2 linked regions of the Homo sapiens genome follow. The protein of the gene in region 2 interacts with the protein of the main gene of each other region in a biochemical or structural test. Each region holds a gene or a part of one and is shown on either strand. Other genes may lie near its edges.

Region 1 (3,500 bases), on a different chromosome or scaffold from region 2:
CCCAAAGTCACCACTGGCTTTTTTATTCACACCAAGCAACACTTCATATCAGTTATTCACTTACAGTTTATGCACAGTGTAATATTATTACTAATTCCGAACTTTCATTGGAAAGATAAAGTGAAAACAAATGCTGTCATAAAAATAGAACACTAGGCCGGCGCGGTGGCTCACATCTGTAATCCCAGCACTTTGGGAGGCCGAGGCTGGCGGATCACCTGAGGTCAACAGTTCAAGACCAACCTGGCCAACATGGCAAAACCCCGTCTCTACTAAAAATACAAAAATAGCCGGGCGTAGTGGTGGATGCCTGTAATCCCAGCTACTCGGGAGGCTGAGGCAGGAGAATCGCTTGAACCCAGGAGGCGGAGGTTGCAGTGAGCCGAGATTGTGCCATTATACTCCAGTCGGGGCAACAAGAGCGAAACTCCGTCTCAAAAAACAAAATCAAAAACAACAACAAAAAAACACTAAGTAAGTAACGAAAAAACCACCAGCCCTCCATTCAAGTTTAATTAGTGGTAGGGATTTTTCCTCTGGTGGGGGGGTGGGGGTGGGAATGTGTCTATTTTTTAAGTAAACTCCTTATGCTTTTGGTGGCACCGTGGAAGCAGAATGAATAAAGCCAGCAGTTTTTTTCTACTTTTTAAGCAGATTATTGCTCACACTAGGAAAGCAAGGGAGTGAATTTTATCAAAGCCTGGGGGCTATCCACACTGTTATTTTGCTCTTTCCTGTGGTGTAGGAGGTTCTATTCTCATGCTGGGGAGACGAAAATACGTCAAAGGAACACCAGGGGTGTTCTGGAAGATCGCTTTGCCACTTATCTACCATGTGTATGCCACTATCTTCTGGAGGTGGATTAATTCAATATTTTGTAAATTAGATTTTGAGAAAAATTGGGCAAGAGTGCAAACCTTTCCCTCCACCCTGCCACACACCCTGACTCCCTGGTTTAAATGGTCTCTCACTGGAGTGACAAATTGATGAGTTTACAATCAGCCCTTCCCAACACTCAGTTTTAGCTCTAAACTCAAAGAGGTTCATTTTAACATTACAATTATGCATTTACTCAGGAGTAGTGGTAACCAAATAATACTACTCTATTCTCAGGAACTACCAACTCATTGAGAGCCCTGTAATCATACCACAATTATTCTTGTGGCAAATTATAATTAAGTACCTCTTCACAATCAAAGACTCAAATTACAGGATAAAAAATAAAACCCTAAATAAATTGAGTACTGTGACCAGTAAATGGGGTCAGAAGCATCCCAACAAACCATGTCTGGTGTACTTCTCTTAGCCGAATAAATCGCAGGCAACATTTTATCTTTAGTTTTGTTGCAGGCTCTTGGTGGATACATTCCCTGCTTAGACCCACCATCTGTTTCATTCTTGTCCCCTGCTCTTACTTCCTATAAGACAGGTCCTTCTGGAAGCTGCCTCTACTCTTTCTCTGTTTTAGAACAAATCCAGTTTGTACAAGAGGAAGTCTTCCTCTCTCTCAAGTATCTGTGTTTGGGCAGGGTTTAGTGCTGCTCTGACTATGAGGAAGTAAGCAAGTCTCTCACTAGCCATCGCCCCTCTGAGCAAAAGGTGAAATGGCCTCCACCTCTAGATCATTGAGCTAGAGGTCTACCAGAATTGCCATGATTTGGTACCACCTTCTTTGACTGCTTTTCTCCTGTTTCTTATGATCCAGTCCAGACTCACACAGCCTGAAAATGTGGTAGCTCTTCCTTAGGTGCCACTGGTCCATCACTCAATAATGTGAAAGGAAAGGGATCCATTTTTGAGTCCTCCAGAAGGTTGGTGTGTAACACACAGCTCTGAGTTAAAAAGTAGTTAGAGGGTAAAGCTTCTGTGGGTACTTATTGTGAAAGGCCCCATTTTTTTTTTTTTTTTTTGAGACGGAATCTTGCTTTGTTGCCCAGGCTGGAGTGCAGTGGCACGATCTTGGCTCACTGCAACCTCCATCTCCTGGGTTCAAGCAATTCTCCTGCCTCGGCCTCCCAAGTAGCCGGGATTACAGGCGTGTGCCACCACACCTGGCTAATTTTTGTATTTTTAGTAGAGGTGGGGTTTCCCCATGTTGGCCAGGCTGGTCTTGAACTCCTGACCTCAGGTGACCTGCCTACCTTGGCCTCCCAAAGTGCTGGAATTACAGGTATGAGCCACCGTGCCTGGCCAGTAAAGGCCCCAATTTTTTTAAAACAATTTCAGTAGCCTACAGAGTCGGTTTGACCACAAAATATGCACAATGATGGCTAACCCTGAGCTCCACTCAGGGTGAAGGGTGGAAATGGAAGTGACTTGAATGTCTCAAACATACAGACACACACACACACACACACACACACACACACACACCACTGTTGTTTATAGAAAGAAAGAAATGGGGGAGGAGAAAAAATAGACACAGAGCTCTTCATTTAAAATATGGAGTTCCAGTGTTACAATGTCCCCTTTATTAAATTATAAATGCAAAGATTTTTACAGGGCCACCTTTTGCAGCCTCCCAGCTCCCTATGGAGCAACAGAATTCAGAAAGACGAAGCTTATTAACAAGAGTGCAGCCATCATACAAACTGCAGTATGCCAAGGAATTAATAGAAATAGCACTTGCAGAATCAGTAAACTAAACCATCTTGGGCTCTTATCTTCGCTCATAAGATAAAATACTATTAAGAATAATAAGTCCAGGCGCAGTGGCTCATGCCCGTAATCCCAGCACTTTGGGAGGCTGAGGCTGGCGGATCACTTGAGGTCAGGAGTTAGAGACCAGCCTGGCCAACATGGTGAAATCCCGTCTCTATTAAAATACAAAAAATTAGCCGGGCGTGGTGACAGGCGCCTGTAGTCCCAGCAACTCAGGAGGCTGAGGCAGGAGAATCGCTTGAACTCGGGAGGCGGAGGTTGCAGTGAGCCAAGATCGTGACACTGCACTCCAGCCTGGAGTCTCAAAAAAAAAATAAAAAATAAAAATAAAAAAAAAAAAGAAGAAGAATACCAGAGCAAAATTCAGAAAACTACACAGCCAGCCTATGATTGGGAAGAGTCTATGAGATATGATTTAAAATAAAATAACCAGTCAACTGTACTTCAAATGACTACTTAGCCAAAATATCCAAGAAGTAGTGTTTTCTCTTGATTTCTCCTTGAAAGCACTACTCAATTGGCTAGGAAGATTCTGGCCATTCCCTGTCTTTCCTTAGGGGGATGGAATGGAACTTCTGTTCCTTTCAGTGACTTCTACCTGACAGGCATTTTACAGGCATTATTTCATTTATTCCTCACAACAAACAGATGAGGAAACTGACACAGAGGTTATGTGACTTGTCCAACCTCATCCATCTGTAGCTCTTGGTATATCATCTATAGCCCTTGCTTTTTTTGTGGTGTTTCACTGCCTACCGGAGGGATTTTTGTTCGTTTATTTGTTTTTTGGTCTTTGATGAGGTTGATGCCATCTGCCTTGGGGCCCCTGTCATTCTCCA
Region 2 (3,500 bases):
ATTCACATGATTTTAGCACTGTTTTCTGGACTATAAAAATCCATTCATTGAATATGCATCTACTTACTGCAAAATAAATAAATATCATCTCTTAGTAAAATTATCCCTCTATGGATACTTCCCTCTCAAGCAGTAAGCTTTAAAAAGTAATGCAGAAGTAAAGCAAAAGAATATAAAATATGATGTTATTTATGCAGGGCCCTCAAGAAATCATATCATTCAGTAAGTGATTTCTCCAGATAGTGAAGCTTCATCTTTAAATACAGAAATGACTTTTTAAAACTTTATTGTCTTGCACGCAAATCTTTCTAAAATGCTTTACTACATACTTCACCAAACATAATCCATTCCCCAATGATTCAGACTAAGTATTGTAAGCATCCATTTCTATACTGCACTTCAGGAGACTCTCAGAGGCTGTTGCACTGTATAGAGTGTCATTTGCCCCTATACTATTAATAAATAGTACCATATTGCTATGCTTGTATAGTTCATCTTTTAAATACAGTTTCCTGTCTTTTTTCTCTCAATTTCCATCAACTGTCACTTTTCCCCCTCCAATAATAGGGTTTATAGGAGGCTAAACTCTTACCTGCCTCAGGGACTTTGCACATGTTTTCCCCTAAATACATTATATTCTTTCCCTCACTTTTTGCCTGGCCAACTCCAACCTTCAGGGCTTCTCTTCCCTGACCACCCTCAATGCAACCAACTCCAGTGTAAACTAATAGCATAGTTTTAGAGATCCTATTACTTACCTACGTAGTGATTTGTGTAATTTTGCAATTCAATTTTTCTTTGTATTTATTTGTGTAGTACGTAACTCCCCAAACAGACTGAAAAGTTCAAGAAGATAGTGACCACGCCTGCTTTATTTGCCATAGCACAGTGCCTAGTACATAGCATATCTGTACAATAAATAAACAGAATTCTCCTGAGAGAGTAGACTTGTAAAATTTTTGAGATTAGATTTGATACATGGGCCACAATGAAGAGAGTGCTTTCAAAGCATCTTCCACTTGAGAAAAAGAGCTCCAATACTGAACATATACATAATAAAATAAACATAACTAAGACAACTTTACCAAAACACATGCACAAAACATCTTGGGAAAATGGCAAAAACAGAAAAGCACAGAACATGTCCTTTTGCTACAGCTTATGTGTCACTCTTTGTTTTCCGGCTAACTGTGGCTCCCCCCCATCCATTCCTTGGCTTCCCTGTTGAAATCACATTGTTACAATTCAAAAAGCCCTTAGGAACTAAAATAAATAATCAAGAAATGAGTAGCAATGAATTGAGGTGCATTAGATATATTGGGCTAGTGATTACAGAGGCTGAGTAGACATTATACAAGACGTGAACCCTTACGGCAGGAAATTACAGCATTAAAACACAGAATTTAGCCAAGCAGCACCTGCCATTTATTTATTTATTTTTAACATGGTCCAAATGTGAATGTTTGTCTCAGTCACAAAATGAGTCACCCTCATTGAATCTGGCACAGATTAAGCTGGAAAACAAAAGCAATTACATAAACTACACACTTTAATAAGGCAGATACAAAGGTTCTCTGGATTATGGTACAAAGCACAATTTAGCCACAGAATAAAGCTTGATGCTCGACAAGAGAACTGACATCAGCACCCTTGCTAATCACAGCACAAAAGCGTCTCTATGTTTTGTCAGAGCACAAAACGGGCCCACATAAATCAGTCTTTGTTATCTGAAAATATCTGAGATTCTTAAAGTTTGTCCTATTTTTATCCTTGCTGCCTTGGTAGCTCCAGAGAAAGCCGTACACTGCCTTGCCAATCCTGCAGAGCAGGAGCAGACAAAAAGGACAGGCTTTCTAGAAACCTTCAAAACCAAATACTCAAAGTAATTTTAAAAGAAATTCACACAAAAAATCATTTTAACGACTAGACTTCCATTACGAGCAGGTAATGAAGAAGCTGAAATTTGCAAGATGTCTGCATAGTTGAGAAGGACTATGTAAAAACTTATTTTGTAGCCATTTCTTATATGCAATAGTCACTCCAATTTTGAGTTGAACAAATAATTTGTTAACAAGAAGTCAACAGTTAAGTCTGGATTTTGGGGTAACTTAAAAGTACCAAATTCTGAAGCCAATTCCCTATGCTCAGTGACTGCCCCCTGTGCCTACAGGATAAAACCCAAACTCTGGCAGGGTACACAGGACCCTCCAATCAACTCCCGCCCCATCTCCACCCCTAAATCTCTCCAGCGTCACTTCTTGCCCCTCTGCCTTCCAACCACATTGGAAATACTTGTAGTTTCCCAAACACTCTGCTCTGTCCTGCCTCTCACCCCTTGGCACAAAATCTACCCCCTAGATTTAGCTCAGCCCTCTTCGGGGCACCATCCGAGTTGGCTCTGAGCTCTCCATTTCCACCTTTTTCCTAAATCATTTGACATCTGTGCATTTGAATGTACTGAGGGCTGGAGCCATTTTAACCTTTCTTCTTTCCTTTCCCATTGCCTAGCGCCAAGGAGGTGCTCAGTCAATGTCTGCTAAATACGCAATACAAAATGTTTGAGGCAAGGATTAAAAATACAGAAGTTCTCATACTATTTATGCATTGCAGGGATAGTGATATAACTGCGATCTGCCCAGCCCATTCAAGAATTGGTCAGGCAAGCATAGAGGTGTGTAAACAAATTAATTTGTTTTTAAAACTCTACAGACATAAGAGAGATGTTTTTAAACATCATTTTAAAAGAACTATTCTTTTAAACATTTCCTGTATTTAGCAAATTGGATATGCTCACCTGTAGAACTGTCACACTGAAGCTAGGTCTTAAGGCAGGCTTATCACACACCCTAGAGTATGGGTATGTACATACTGGCAAGAAAGTACAGATGGGAGTCCCACTATTTGGTGGGAAGGAAACATTTTTTAACCTGGATTAACCCCAAGCCATTAATGGCTGTAATATTACTAACAAATTCACAAATTTTGCCTATATGGCTGTAACGTTACTAACAAATTCACAAATTTTGCCTAATTAACCTAACTAGCAAATGGCTTCAGCTTTAAAGAAAAACATTGTAACTGCTGTACACCCTGTTTTGTGAGTTCTCTGTGGTATAAATGACAGCTCACATGCCTGGTGTGATGCTTGCCAAAATTCCCTCATCTTTTCCCTGTACCTTTACTGGAAGAGCTAATTATTGAGGAAGTGGCCAATATATGGGCAGGCAAGAGAGAAGATCAGAGAAGAGGTCGGGGGTAGTCCATGGGTTCTCTGCCCTGAATGCACATTAGAAATATCCGGAGAGCTTTGCTTAAAAAAAAAAAAAGCTTGGGGTTTCACCTTAAGCCAACTAAATTGTAGTGTATGGGGGTGGGGTGAAGATTGGAATAGGCAGGTTTAAACACTCAACAGATGATTCTAATGTGCCACCATGATTAAGAACCATAGATCCAATCAATAGGATTATATTGCTCTTTAAAGTAAAATTTCAAAAACAAAA

What was found. Proteins that work in one complex are often made in the same cells at the same time.
Region 1: the proteins of GAB1 (region 2) and BTK form a complex in vitro, tested with the Homo sapiens proteins (one large-scale study listed by BioGRID and IntAct).

Annotation. Positions count from the first base shown.
Region 1 is NC_000023.11:101,376,192-101,379,691, forward strand, and holds part of BTK (tyrosine-protein kinase BTK), read right to left. Parts: intron 1,833-3,500; exon of another isoform or gene 1,668-1,832; intron 1-1,667. UniProt on the Homo sapiens protein: Non-receptor tyrosine kinase indispensable for B lymphocyte development, differentiation and signaling. Binding of antigen to the B-cell antigen receptor (BCR) triggers signaling that ultimately leads to B-cell activation.
Region 2 is NC_000004.12:143,409,876-143,413,375, reverse strand, and holds part of GAB1 (GRB2-associated-binding protein 1), read right to left. Parts: intron 1-3,500. UniProt on the Homo sapiens protein: Adapter protein that plays a role in intracellular signaling cascades triggered by activated receptor-type kinases. Plays a role in FGFR1 signaling. Probably involved in signaling by the epidermal growth factor receptor (EGFR) and the insulin receptor (INSR).